Linked DNA regions of Homo sapiens. The protein of the gene in region 2 purifies or fractionates together with the protein of the main gene of each other region. This does not show direct contact. Each region holds a gene or a part of one and is shown on either strand. Other genes may lie near its edges. The genes, in order: MBNL1 and RFWD3.

What was found.
Region 1: the proteins of RFWD3 (region 2) and MBNL1 purify together in Homo sapiens (affinity purification with mass spectrometry, with the first as the bait; one large-scale study listed by BioGRID). This does not show direct contact.

Annotation. Positions count from the first base shown.
Region 1 is NC_000003.12:152,267,429-152,271,728, reverse strand, and holds the start of MBNL1 (muscleblind-like protein 1), read right to left. Parts: upstream 2,801-4,300; 5' UTR 2,637-2,800; exon of another isoform or gene 1,951-2,636; intron 1-1,950. UniProt on the Homo sapiens protein: Mediates pre-mRNA alternative splicing regulation. Acts either as activator or repressor of splicing on specific pre-mRNA targets. Inhibits cardiac troponin-T (TNNT2) pre-mRNA exon inclusion but induces insulin receptor (IR) pre-mRNA exon inclusion in muscle.
Region 2 is NC_000016.10:74,639,141-74,643,164, forward strand, and holds part of RFWD3 (E3 ubiquitin-protein ligase RFWD3), read right to left. Parts: intron 1-4,024. UniProt on the Homo sapiens protein: E3 ubiquitin-protein ligase required for the repair of DNA interstrand cross-links (ICL) in response to DNA damage. Plays a key role in RPA-mediated DNA damage signaling and repair.

The DNA.
Region 1 (4,300 bases), on a different chromosome or scaffold from region 2:
TGGTTGATGGGATTTTATTTTGGGCCAATCACTTCGTGAACCTATTTCACTTCTTTCCTCCACTCTTTTGACTCTCATATCTACTACCCACCCTAATGCCTTTGCATACAGAATTTTAAAAACCCAATCACCTATTCTTTTCAGCTTCTCCTAACCAAGACCTGAGATGTTCTCTAATCCGCACATCTATCACCAAGCAGAAAGCCAGAAGGTGCAGCAAGATTATTTATTCTCTGTTTCCATATAGATCTATCAAATACAGGCCTAATGTATGGCAACAGTGACAAATGCAAGGGCATTTTTTTCTTATAATGAAGATAAGGCATTTTATATAATAAAGTAACACACCCTTCCTCAATGAGAAATACAATTTTCAATGAGAAATATAATTTTACTCTTTTTTTTTCCCCCAGGAGAAATTTTGGGTTAGTCTGTTCTTGTTCTGGAACAAAACCCAGTGTTTCATTTCATAGGAATTCTGTGCCCAAAGGAAGAACAGAATGTTGGAATCAAAATTTAATGAATTCAACTTGGAGTCTAACTTTGCCTCAAATGTGGAAATGTAAACACAAGCAATAATATCTCAAACCATATAACACTTCAGTTTCTCTTTGGCATGACTGCGCAGAGTACCACACTTGATGTGTATCTACACACAAATTTGTTCACAGTTACATAAGGAAAAAAATTAAACTAGGCATATGTGAGGTTTTTCTGAGTCTCTTAGTAATAATGAAATCTGATTATTATGTCTTAAGTGACACTATAATTATAGATGAACAGGTTTTCTGTTGCTGACCCAACCTGTTCCTTAAAACACAAAAGGCAACTTTTGTAGTCTTCAGCAAGGAAACCCCCCATTAAACAAATAAGACTAAAAAAGCTATGCCTACATTTTCAAAGAAGACCTAACAATATAATAATAATAATAAAGTAACTCCCATGCAAATACACAAAACAGATAAAAACTAGAACATTAGGTTTTCTAAAGAAGTTTAGCCTTAGTTGTCACCAACTTTAAGAAAGCAAGATACAAGTGACAGCGATGTGCATTCTCAGGCTACAAAATAACTTATTCAGTGCCTCTATCTATAACTACATCTAAGACATTCTAAGTATTGAACTGCACATTCCTGGGATAAATTTTACAGTCGTTGAACTTTCATTTTCTCTCTGGGTGATAATATTTTATCTCAACAGCAAGGAGAAACACCAACACACTTAGGAATCCACACAGAGAGATAACTGTGGAGTGGCTCTCTTGTGCTGGTATAGAATACTTAGGTACTAAACACCCTCTGTGTATAAACAGACACTGTGTTCAAACCCAGGAGGAAGGGACATAGTGTCCACCGGTGTAGTATTTCAAAGCACGCTGCAGAGGGCTCGAAAGTCTAAAAGCATTAATTATGACTTCTCTCCTAGCGTATTAATTTAAGAAACTCCTCAGAGTATATGGCAGAGTTTGCCATCCATCTGCTATGACTTGTGCCTGTGCTGGTGGGCACACAAAGTGAAGTCAGCGGCAACAACCTTTCCGGCAGCTTCTTAACTTTAATCCTGGGGAGACATACTCCACGGAAATACACCCCAGAATCCCAACAGCCGCATACTCTCCCGGCCCCAGAGAGCCTTAAGAATACAATATTACTCTGGCAGCAACACCCCTGTAGTTGTAAAGTGCTGTGCGAGGGGAAGGCATAAGCGCCACCATATACCTGCTCGTGTTACAGGCTCTGGAATCAAAGTATTCTCACATGACACATTACTACCAATAACAGATTCCGGCTCCGTTTAAAAAAAAAAAAAAAAGTTGGGGGGTGGCTACATATTTGTCCTGCTTTTGTCTAAAAACCAGAACCCAAGTACTAACTACTTTTCATTCTTTTCAACCTTTCATGAAAGCAATTCAACCAACTGCGGCTCCACCCAAAGAGCTTCTATACTTACTTTTCTTACAGTTTTTGAGTGACGCACTACAAAACGATGAAAAAAAAAAGAAGAAGAAGAAAAGGAGGAGGCAGCCCTCTCCTACAGGGCGTCTTCCGCCCTGTAAACTTGGCAAAAGGCAAACTGGCCTGAAATACAGCACTCTCCATATAAGGCAGCCCAGCTAAACATGTCATGCGTAATTTATGGGTAGCAAGCAGAGAATTAACCTTTGCGTGCACATATTTGGCCCAGATGAAAACCGGGCGGGATGGCAGCCCCGGGGCCAGGGATGCGGGAGCCGCCGGGAAGACCCGCGCGCCGCTCGACTCAGAGGGACTCACACCTTCCCCCGACAAAGGTCATTAAGTTGTGAGTACACTTGCACGCACCTGTTTCTCTTCTCGCCCCCCTGTTTCTCCCTGGGTCCCGCTGGGCTGCCAAGCCGTGCGCGGGCTGTGCCGTGACAGCGTCCGCAGAGCCCGCGGCAGGGAAGGGCGCAGGAGCGGCTGCGGCTCACCCTCCCGCCTTCCCCCGGGCAGGAGGTGCTGAGGGACGCGAAACCAACTACCGCGAGCGGCCCGCCCCTGCCCGGGAGAACCGCGGCCGGCGAGCACCTCCTCGCACTTCCTCCTTCAGCCACGGGCAGACCCGCCGGAGTCCGAACAATGAAGCGGCGCGGGGAAACTGTGAAAATGGAAACTTACCTCTCACATTTTTTTTTCAGAGGCGGCCCCACTGTCGACCAAGTGCCCAAGGCATTGTGGGAGTCATGATTCCAAGATGCCCGCGACGGAAAATGGAACTTGTCAGCTCCTTGTCATGGGAGCATTGTGGGCGCCACAACTCATTCAGCTGCAGTGAAAAGACTGTTGCATGTCGCTGTGCAGCCTCTTATCGCCGAGGTCTGGCTTCCGCTGCTGCTGCGCGGCCCCTCCCCCGCCCGCCCAGCCCCACCAGGAAGCCCAGGGCGGACTCGTCGAGCTCCTAATGCACGCGGCGGCGAGAAAAACGCTCTTCAACTTTCCGCCGGCGCCCTCCCGCGCTTCCCCGGGCCACAGGGTCGCCTGTCAACCGGACAGAGCCCGCAAGAGCGGGTCATGGGCGGTCGCCCAGCGGCGCCGAGAGCAGGAGGAAGCCGGAGCCCGCGCGGGCGCCGTGGATCCCCTCGGCCTCCCGTTGGTATCTTCCATCTCATGCGTTCAGCATTGTAACCTCGCGGCGGGCGTGCAGACCGGACGCCCTCCCGCTTCTTCTACCGACTGCTAGGCACACCAGTGGGTTCATTTTGAAAGAGGCCCTTGCACCGGGCTTTGCAAGGAAGCCGGCAAGGTTAGATTGAAGGTTAGAAGCCAATTAGACTAGAATCCTGCGATCTGGTGAGACTGCCGCCTTAAAATGCACCAAACAGTTTTTGAACCTGGAGGGCTAACAGGCGGGAAAAACATCTGCAAGACTGCCACCGTGTATTTTTCTCAAGTAACAGGCTATCCACAGTTTTGGAATTCCTTAGTGAAACTGTCACACAGGCACAAACACATGTCAGCTTTCCTTCTAGTTTGTAAATAATATTTGTAATTTACAGGCCACTGTATTCCCAACTTTGCACCATGTGATTTAGAGAAAGCAAAGCTCCCTCTTTAAAAATAATATGTTACTTCTGAAATACCGGGATATTCCACGGCAAGTAAGCCATATTGTCGCCAGAGCAAATAAACCGCAGCCCCATATCATAATTCACTGGGTGCTATAAGATGTAACTTGGCTTTGCTTTGAATGGAAAGAATCCTGAACGTCTGTGATGTGATGAAGTTTTGGAGACTGGGGGCAGGATTTCCTTTGAATGTAAGGAATTCGGATAACTTGTTCAAGGATGATTCTAGTGAAAAACGTTTGTCCCATGTTTGTTGGGACAAAAATGCTGGATATGGTACAACATTCTTCCTGCAGGTTCGGTTTTGTTGAAGAGAGTGAGGCCAGCTCGAGGTGAAGGAAAAACATCAGAAAGGTGCTAAAGTGCAGAAATATCTTCCAGAGGCACTAATAGCCGACTTTAGTTCTTGACCTTTAGCTAGATCCACAAAGCACTGAGTTAAAATTGTACACTGATCCCTTCCAGAACAAATTAATTAATTAAATGGTGCCTCTTCCCAGCGTTAATCGTTTAAAAGGACTCAAGTACCCACACAGTTTAAGCAAACTAAAAGAACACTGACACTTTCTCAGAGAACAGGGATGGGAACTTTCTATCTGCCCATTAGTATCTACCCCAAGCTACGAAGACTTCCATTCCTCTTATTAAGCATTCAGCAACTACATTTAGTGCCTACTATGCCAGTGATGCAAGAATGGATAAGACAGTCCCTACACT
Region 2 (4,024 bases):
AGATTTCTTGCCTCAGCCTCCCAAGTAGCTGAGATGACCGGCACCTGCCAACACACCCAGCTAATTTTTGTATTTTTAGTAGAGACAGGGTTTCACCATGTTGCCCAGGCTGGTCTCAAACTCCTGGCCTCAAGTGATCCACCTGCCTCAGCCTCCCAAAGTGCTGGGATTACAGGTGTGAGCTACTACACCCAGTGCGCTAAGCCATTTCAATGATTACAACATCACTTACGCAACAGAATTTTCAGCTCCATTATAATCTTATGGGGCCACCATCGTATATGCAATCTGTCATTGACCCAAAGGTCATTATGCAGCACGTGACTGTAAAGTAAAAGGCTAGGCAGGATCTTTATGAAGCAAAATACACTTGTGAAAGACACAAGAAAACAGTGAACAAATGGAAGGATATTACATAATGTTCATGACTGAAAAGACTATCACAAAGATGGTACTTCTCAAGTTACCCTATAATAATTTTTAATGCAATTTCAATCAAGATCCCAAAGGTGTTTTTCATGGAACTTAACAAATTAATTTTAAAAAATTAATATGAAGAACAATGCCAAAAATAGCAAAAAAATACTTTTGCAGAACAAAATGGGGGAACATATATTAAAGCTACAATAAATTATAGCTTGGAATATGTGAGAAAGAATTAACAAAAAGACTGTGGAACAAAAGAGTACAGTGTCTCCTTATCTAGTTTCATTTTCCATGGTTTCTGATATCTGTGATCAACCACAACCTACAAATATCGAGATATGTTGAGAGAGAGATGGAGACCACACTCACATAACTTACTATAGTATACTGGTATAATTGCTCTATTTTATTATTTATTATTGTTAATCTCTTACTGTTCCTAATTTATAAATTATCCTTTAGGTTTGTATGTATAAGAAAAAACATACTACGGTTTCAGGCATTCACTGGGGGCTCTTGAAATGTATTCCTTGTGGCTAAGGGGGGACTACTGTAGCCCATTCATACATGGAAACTTAATTTTTTTTTTTTTTTTTGAAACAGTCTTGCTCTGTTGCCCAGGTTGGAGTGCAGTGGCGTGATCTTGGCTCACTGCAACCTCCGCCTCCTCCCGAGTTCAAGCGATTCTTCTGACTCAGCATCCTGAGTAGCTGGGATTACAGGTGTGTGCCACCACGCCCAGCTAATTTTTGTATTCTTAGTAGAGACACGGTTTCATCATGTTGGTCAGGCTGGTCTCGAACTTCCGACCTTGTGATCCGCCCACCTCAGCCTCCCAAAGTGCTGGGATTACAGGCGTGAGCCAATGCGCCCGCCCGGAAACTTAATTAAGGATAGAAGTAGCAATGAAAATTTGTACAGAAAAATATACTATTTAGTAAATTATAAGTCAGGTGTGGTGGCATGCGCCTGTACTCCCAGCTACTCAGGATGCTGAGGTTGGAGGACTGCTTGAGCCTAGGAATCTGATGGCGCCACTGCACTCTGGCCTTTGTGATAGAGCAAGACCCTGTCTTTAAAAAAAATTTTTTGGCCAGGCGCAGTGGCTCATGCCTGTAATCCCAGCACTCTGGGAGGCCGAGGTGAGTGGATCACGAGGTCAGGAGTTCAAGACCATCCTGGCCAAGATGGTGAAACCCCGTCTCTACTAAAAATACAAAAAATTAGCCAGGCGTGGTGGCGGGTGCCTGTAGTCTCAGCTACTCGTAAGGCTGAGGCAGGAGAATCACTTAAACCCGGGAGGTGGAGGTTGTAGTGAGCTGAGATCACGCCACTGCACTCCAGCCTGGGCGACAGAGCGAGACTCTGTCTCAAAATAAATAAAATTCACAAAGGTATGAAAAAATGAGAAATCTCTCCTTTTTTTTTAAACAAGAAAAGTTTAAGTTAGAAAAGTAATTTGACAATATTTAGGTAAAGCTGAAATTAAATGTGCCCTATAATAAAGCAATTCCATTGCTAGACCTCTCTGCAGCATGGCTAATATTAACAAGTGGAGACAACCTAAATGTCTACCAATGTAAAACACAAACAGATAATTTTTTTTTTTTTTGAAGACAGAGTTTCGCCATTGTTGCCCAAGCAGGAGTGCAATGGTGCGACCTCGGCTCACCACAACCTCTGCCCCCTGGGTTCAAGCTATCCTCCTGCCTCAGTCTCCCGAGTAGCTGGGACTACAGGTGCGTGCCACCATGCCCGGCTAATTTTTGTATTTTTAGTAGAAATGGGGTTTCACCATGTTGGCCAGGCTGGTCTCCAACTCCTGACCTCAGATGATCCGCCCACCTCAGCCCCTCAAAGTGCTGGGATTATAGGTGTGAGCCACCACGCCTGGCCTAAACAGATTAATTTTGACTAGAGAACTAGAATATTATCAAGAAATTGAAATGAAAAAAACTAGAGTCCCATGTATCAACTAGGATATACTCCCAAAGCATAAAATTAAGCAAAAAAGCAAGCTACAGAAGAAAAAGTTATAATCTAACATAACATTTGCATACAGTATAAAAACTTTCTGGCCGGGTGCAGTGCCTCACGCCTGTAATCTCAGCACTTTGGGAGTCCAAGGCAGGCTGATCACGAGGTCAGGAGTTCCAGACCAGCCTGGCCAACACGGTGAAACCCTGTCTCTACTAAAAATACAAAAAAAATTAGCTGGGCATGGTGAAAGGCGCCTGTAATCCCGGCTACTTGGGAGACTGAGGCAGGAGAATTGCTTGAACCTGGGAGGCGGGAAGTTGTAGTGAGCCAAGATTGCACCATTGCAATCCAGCCTGGGCAACAAGAGCAAAACTCCGTCTCCAAAAAAAAAAAAAAAAAAAAAAAAAACCAAAGAAACCAAAAACCAAAACAAAACTTTCTATATCATACTATGTATAATTTACAAATACATATATAGCTAATCAAATACATAATAACTCTTGGGAATGCTGAACACCTAATTCATGAAAGTAGTTCTCTATGGAATTAAGAACTTAGTTCACAGGAAGACTTCTAGTGTACCTTTTTAAATTTGACACAGAGTCTTGCTCTGTTGCCCAGGCTGGAGTGCAGTGGCGCAATCTCAGCTTACAGTAACCTCCGCCTCCCAGGTTCAAGCGATTCTCGTGCCTCAGCCTCCCGAGTTGCTGGCATTACAGGCACGCACCACCACATCCGGATAATTTTTTGTATTTTTAGTAAAGATGGGGTTTTGCCATGCTGCTCAGGCTGGTCTCAAACTCCTGAGCTCAGGCGATCTGCCTGCCTCAGCCTCCCAGAGTGCTAGGATTTCAGGTGTGAGCCACTGTGCCTGGCCCTTCTACTGAATCTATAATTAACTTCTTCTTCTTTAAAATTTTCTTTCCTTTTTTTCCTTCTTGACCTGGTCAACAGATTTATCTTTATTTTTTTGAGACAGGTTCTTACTCTGTCACCCAGGCTAGAGTGCAGTGGCATGACCATAGCTCACTGCAGCCACAACCTCCTGGGCTCAAGAAATCCTCTCTCCTGAGTAGCTGAGACTACAGGTGTGTACCACTACACACGGATAATTTTTTTCATTTTTATTAGAAACAAGGTCTCACAATGTTGCCCATGCTGCTCTCAAACTCCTGGTCTCAAGCAATCCTCCTGCCTCGGCCTTCCAAAGTGCTGGGATTACAGGCATGAGCCACTACACCCAGCCTATTTATTTTCAAAAAGGCTCAAAGCAATATGGCAAAACATTAAGATTTGATAAAATTGGGTAAAAGGCTGTTCGTTTTATTAGTCTGTATCGGCATTTTGAAACTCTTCACTTTTTCTAATGAGGCTGGAGAGTATACTAATTCCTTATTGTAATCAGTGAATTGTTTTTAAATATAATCACCCATTACAGCCACACGTATAGATTTTGCCTTTTCAACAAAATTCCTCTCTGTACACATCTTCCATTATTTAAAAACGCTACAAGTGAGCATTGGTTGGACCAAATGAGTAAAAACAAGGAAGAAAACTAAAATAATCTGTACAGTGACTACCTATAGAGCTTTTTTTCTTTCTTTTAAAAAAAATTTTA